Linked DNA regions of Homo sapiens: region 2 is linked to region 1. Evidence: fine-mapped expression QTL. A gene starts in region 1. The other region holds a variant in brackets. All regions are shown on one strand. Distances are from middle to middle. Region 1 holds the start of GATD1-DT (GATD1 divergent transcript). Region 2 overlaps EPS8L2 (EPS8 signaling adaptor L2).

Region 1 (2,916 bases):
GGCTAGGCCCAGCCTGTGGTGTGACCGCAGGCCTGCGAGGCTTCAGACACCTCCATCCACTAACACCCCCACCCACCTAACACTGGACACTCACTCAGCTCCGTCCTCTGCTCCCTAACCCAACTCTCGGCCTTGCCTGTACCAGGAGCTCCCAGCTCCCACTTCCCCTGTGGTGGGAGGGCTCTGTGTCAGGTGAGGCAGGGTGCACTGCTTGTCTGACGGGGGTCAGGGACCCTTCTCCAGGCTGGGCCAGGGGGAGCCAGAGGCCAGTGGCTTTTTTTTTTTTTTGAGAAGGAGTCTCAATCTGTCGCCCAGGCTGGAGTGCAGTGGCGCAATCTTGGTTCATTGCAACCTCTGCCCCCGCTGGGTTCACGTGATTCTCCCGCCTCAGCCTCCCAAGTAGCTTGGATGACAGGTGCTGCCACTGCTAATTTTTGTATTTTTCTTAGTAGAGACGGGGTTTCACCATCTTGGCCAGGCTGGTCTTGAACTCCTGACCTCGTGATCCACCCGCCTGGGCCTCCCAAAGTGTTGGGATAACAAGCGTGAGCCACCGCGCCCGGCGGAGGCCAGTGGTTTTCAGGGGGTGTGACCCACAGAATTCCTCACCTTGGCTGTTCCCAACCATGACGGTTCCCCTGGTTGGAGCAGAGGCTTGGTGGGACCTTCATACTGGCAGCAGGGGGCCAGGGACCTGGGCGGCCCGCTCGCCTGCTGGCTCTGTCTCAAGCGCCCTTTTGGCCTCAAAGGGTGCCTGCCTGTCTGCCAACCACTCCACGTGGTCTCACCCCCTCCAACTACAGTCTAAGGAAAAACTGCTTCAGGCCAGGCGCGGTGGCTCACGCCTGTAGTCCTCGCACTTTGGGAGGCCAAGGCAGGCAGATCGCTTTAGATCAGGAGTTCGAGACCAGCTTGGACAACACAGTGAGACCCCCTCTCTACCCAAAACACAAAAAAATTAGCTGGGCGTGGTGGAGTGTGCACCTGGGGTCCCGGTTGCTCAACAGGCTGAGGTGGGAGGATCGCTTGAACACGGTAGGCAGACGCTGTAGTGAGCCGAGATCACGCCACTGCACTCCAGAGGCCCTGTCTCAAAAAAAAAAAAAAAAAAAGAAAAACTGCTTCAATTCTCCTCACCAAAGCCAGCACGCCCGAGGTGTCCCCATCTCAGGAAGTGACACTCCGTCCTCCCAGGAGCTCAGCCCGACGCCCCACAACCCTGCAGGCCTCCCCGCGACGCCCCCGTCCTGGGCCGGCGGAGCCCACCCCGCCTCCTGGACCCCGCCGTCCCCCTCCTAGTCTCCGGGGACACCCGGAGCTTCTGACCCCGCAGCCCCCCGGTCTCCCCTGCTCCTCGGGTGTGGCCACCGGAACACCACGGGCACCTTCGCGCCCCGACACCGCCGCCTGGCTCTGCTGATGCCCGCGCCCCCACCCCAGGCCAAGAGCCCTACCCCGCGCGCGCTCAGACTGCGCATGCGGCCGGGGAGGACCCTCGCGACCCTACCTATTGGCCCCTGCCAGGCTCGGATGCCGAACCCGCCGGGGCCAAAGCAGGCGCGACCTGCGACCGCCCGGGCGCGCGGAGCGGCGGGCAGCCCAGCCGACCCGGACCGGGTACGAACGCGCAGGCGCCCAGTCCCACCCGGCTCCGCCCCCGGCCGCCAGGGCACGTGACCCGCGAACTCCCGGGCGCGCCCAGACGCCGCGCACGCGCAGACCCAGCGCCGAGCCCGAGCCATGGCGTCCGAGCGGCTCCCTAACAGGCCCGCCTGTCTGCTCGTGGCCAGCGGCGCCGCCGAAGGTGAGGCCCGGCGGCCGGGGCCAGTGTCCGAAGAGCGTCCGCGAGGGGGCTGCCCGGGGCGGGAGGTTCGGGACACGGTGGGCGCGCGTCACGTGGCGCCGGAGGCCGAGGCCGCTGGGGGCGCCGGGCAGGGGCCGGGGGAGGGCGGAGCGGGGTCGGTGTCGGGATGGAGCTCGGGGCGGGGACGGGGGCGGGGGTGGGGTCGCGGGTTGGTGGGATGGAGCTCGGGGCGGGGTCGGGGGGTCGTGATGGATCCCGGCGCCGCGTCGCTCCTCCGAGTCTCGTCTGCCCGGCGAGGCGGCCCGGGCCCGACGTTTCTAGCGGAGGGAGCCGCGTGCCTGGGCCTGGTCTCTGAGGCCGCTGCGCTGCGAGAGGGGAGCCCGGGTGTGGGGAGGGGCCATTCCGGGAGTTGACCCAGCTCTGAGGTCGGGCGGCCGCGGGGACCCTGACCTTCTGAGCCACCGGCTTCTGAGGAGACCCGGAGCCCCCTCCTGGAGAAGGCGCCCCGCGGCCCCCGTCCTGGGGCAAGGGTACCAGGGCAGTACTGGCCTGGGGCTCACGCGGGTCGGAGCGCAGCGGGGTGCGTCCCCTGGCGCTGAGCCTGCAGGGTCTCAGGGCAGCAGGGGAGGGATGAGCAGCGGAGCACGAGGGTGCCTGGCCTTGTTCTGAGCCTTTTGGAGAGGGAAGTGAGCAGCCCAAGGTCACCGCACCACGGAGAGGTGGGGGCCGGGGTTGCGACCCAGGGGTCTGCCTCTTGAAGTCTGTAGCTCCTCAAGTGTGGACGGGGAGATGGGGCTGTGGGGTTGTGGCGTCACGATGTGCTGAGCTCCAGGGGTCCTGAGTGATGCCCCCAGACTGCGGGTGGGAGGAGCCTCGAGTGGGGTTCAGTCCTGGGGGGGTGGGTTGGGGCTTGTTTCCAGAGCAGGTAGGCGTGAGGAGGTCCGGCATGTTGAGGACGTGGGGTCTTAGCGCCAGCAGGCTGGGGGCAGCACTTCAGGAGGCCGGAAGGGCGGGCAGCTGGGGGAACAGAGCCTGCGGCAGTCTACTGGGCACTTTGTTTTTCCTCGATAAGTGGACATTTTACAGTGAATATGTATTAACTTATATAAGAA
Region 2 (2,704 bases), 56 kb after region 1:
TATATCATGCAGTTGAAATGAAAACCGCTTCAAATCTGGAAAAGTATTTTAAACCACTTGAACAATGCACTTGCCACCACCTGGTGGCAGCGTACCCATATGTTTTTAGAGACTGTAGGTTCTGAAGGGTTTCACTTTCATGCTCCCTCACTTTGAGGGGGGCTTACCTGTGAGTATGTGGGGAGCTGACTGGTGGTAGGGCATCCCCCGGGGGGGTGGGCTCTGAAGTGGGGCTGTGCTTCTGGGAGTTTCTTATGGACTGTCGGCTCACTGGACTCACCTGTGGGGAAGGTGGGCGACCTGAGTTAGACATGGGGCGGGGCTGGGTCCCAGGACGAGGGGGCATATGACAGGGGCTGGGCTAATGTCCTGTGACTGATGCATCACTGAGGGTGATGGAGCCTGATGCCCGGTGATGCCAGCATGGGTTGCCTCTCCTGGCAGGGGCTAGGGGCAGCTGAGCTGTGGCTGAAGGGGCGGTGGGTGGAGGTGGGCTGGGGAGGGGAGCTCTGGGGAGGGGTGGGTGTCGGGGCCGGGGAGGGGAGCTCTGGGGAGGGGTGGGTGTCGGGGCTGGGGAGGGGAGCACTGGGGAGGGGTGGGTGTCAGGGCTGGGGGGGGAGCTCTGGGGAGGGGTGGGTGTCAGGGCTGGGGGGGAGCTCTGGTGAGGAGTGGGTGTTGGGGCTGGGGTAGGGATGGGGGCTGCTGGTGCTCTCACCTCCTCGATGGGGGCAGACGCCAGCCCCTCCACCTCCCAGGGGGCCTCCTGCAGCACATCCACAGGAGGCTCCCAGCCGCTGTGGAACTTGGGCACGTAGAGGGGCACCTGTGGCTCCCGCGGCCACTCGGAACTGGGGTGAGAGGTCCTGAAGTCAGCCCTGCCTCTCCAGAACTGGCCCACCAGGACCCCCTTGCTGGCCCCCATGCAGCGCTGGCCCCCCATGAAGCCCCGGCACTGCTCTGCCCTGCCCTACCGGGGCCGCATCCAGCTCTCTCCCAGTGACTCCCACAGCGACATCTCCTTAGGGACCAGGTGGCCGCGCAGGAAGTCCACGGCATCTCGGGAGAGCAGTGGGCAGGAGACGGAGCGTGCGATGTCTGGGCCACTGCAGGTGTTGACGATCTGGGGCACAGTGAGGTTCAGAGGGGACTGAGGCCCACAGACCCTGGCCCAGCACCCCCGTAGCTCCACAGGCTGGCCCTCGGGAAGGGACTTTGGACCCCAGGGAGAGTGGCCACACAGCGTGAACCGGGCTGCCCAAGGCGGGCACCTGCTGCCCCAACCCCGACCCCGGGGAGATGCTGCAGAGGCCTCTGGGCCCCCACCCTG[C/T]GCGCCCCTGCCGCCCGGCCCCAGGCACCAGGTCCAGAGGCCCGAAGAGGAAGTGCACGAGCTCCGCGGCGCTGGGGTTCTGGATGTGCTTCTGCAGCTTTGCCTGGGGGTGGGAACAAGTGAGCAGGTGCCGGGGCGGGGCGGGGCCTCCACCCTCCCCTCAGCACAGACAGTGGGGCAGGGCTGGGGCCACCGGACCCACCAGCAAGTTAATCGCCAGCTTGATTTTCTGGAAGCAGTCGATGAACTCGCCCTCAGAGGGGGGCCGTGCCCGCAGTGTGAGGACGCCCTCTGGCATGGGAGGCACCGCGTGAGCCAGGCTGGCCCTGATCTCCCCGGCCCCTGCGCCTTCTGTCCCACGCAGCCCATCTGTGTGGGCTGGACCTTCCTCCACCTCCATGAGTAGCCCCCATGGATGTCCCTGGCCCCGTCCCCGTCCCTGTCCCCTGCACCTGCTGGCCCCGTCCCCTGCACCTGCCGGCCCCGTCCCTGTCCCCTGCACCTGCTGGCGCCTTCTTGCCCTTCTTCTTCCCCTTTTTCCGCTGGTTCAGCTGCTTGAAAGCCTCGGCTGCCTTCTGCAGCCGGGCCACAAACCACTCGATGTCGTCCAGGGCGCAGTTGAGGATTTGCTGGGGTCAGAGGGGGTCAGGGGTCAGCCCCTGACACTCCCCACCGCCCCGCCTTGCTGCAGGGACAGCCCCACAGATGATGGGAGGAGCTGGGCCCCACACCTTCGGAGGGGCAGCCACAGGCTGGGGACTGGCCGGAGGGACAGCAAGGACCAGTGTCCACTGCTGGGGGCGGGGAAGAGAGGGGCCACCTGCCGGGCCCGGGCACCCACCGTCTCCTTCTCTATCTTCTGAGCCAGCACGGCCCGCGGCTCCTCCTGCGACTCCCGACGGCGGAAACCTGATGGGGGACACGGCGGCTGCTCACCGAGCCCCCCACAACGAGCCCTGTGGAGCCCCCTCCAGCCCCTCGGCCCACCTGGCTCGCTGAGTGGCACCTGCGGGCCCACGCGATTCTTGGCCTCCGGGGAATCCCCGCCGCGGTGCTGGAAGGGGATGGGCGCCGGGCCCTGGGGAGGAGGCAGGATGGACTGCCGCTGCCGAATCTTCTCCTGGTGTCCCCTGGAGGGCGAGGGGGTCCTGCTCAGCCCCGCCGGGAACGCACCTGACCCTCCCTCCCTGCCGGGCTCCTCCCCTCCCCTGCCGGCTCCTCCCCTCCCCTGCCGGGCTCCTCCCCTCCCCGCCCCCTGCGACCCCGCTCCGCCCGCTGCCCTACTTCAGGGTCTGCGGCCGCATCTTCTTGCCCAGCCGGCAGTCGGCCAACGCGCTCTCGATGTCCTCGTGCACCAGCTCTGCCTGGGAAAGCGGG

What was found. PIP is the estimated chance that this variant, and not a neighbour inherited with it, causes the effect.
Region 2: its variant is the best candidate, but not a certain one, in a credible set for the expression of GATD1-DT in whole blood (TOPMed, PIP 0.55).

Annotation. Positions count from the first base shown.
Region 1 is chr11:776,287-779,202 of GRCh38, reverse strand. It overlaps GATD1-DT (GATD1 divergent transcript), which reads right to left and starts at 1,625. Exons shown (of 2, transcript NR_126343.1): 1 at 1,508-1,625. GATD1 (glutamine amidotransferase class 1 domain containing 1) reads left to right here and starts at 1,716. Exons shown (of 8, transcript NM_182612.4): 1 at 1,716-1,804. The coding sequence starts at 1,741. LOC124900301 reads right to left here and starts at 1,625. Exons shown (of 2, transcript XM_047427954.1): 1 at 1,508-1,625; 2 at 1-1,086. RefSeq lists silencers at 1,216-1,315, 1,366-2,075, 2,086-2,295.
Region 2 is chr11:720,817-723,520 of GRCh38, reverse strand. EPS8L2 (EPS8 signaling adaptor L2) reads right to left here. Exons shown (of 21, transcript NM_022772.4): 7 at 2,612-2,691; 8 at 2,315-2,457; 9 at 2,169-2,236; 10 at 1,830-1,956; 11 at 1,530-1,618; 12 at 1,356-1,430; 13 at 972-1,120; 14 at 716-848; 15 at 168-280. Among named protein-coding and RNA genes, the nearest start is that of EPS8L2, 16 kb to the right of the region's middle. RefSeq lists silencers at 1,303-1,352, 2,283-2,432, 2,463-2,512, 2,543-2,704. The variant C/T (reference allele first, on the strand shown) is at 1,328.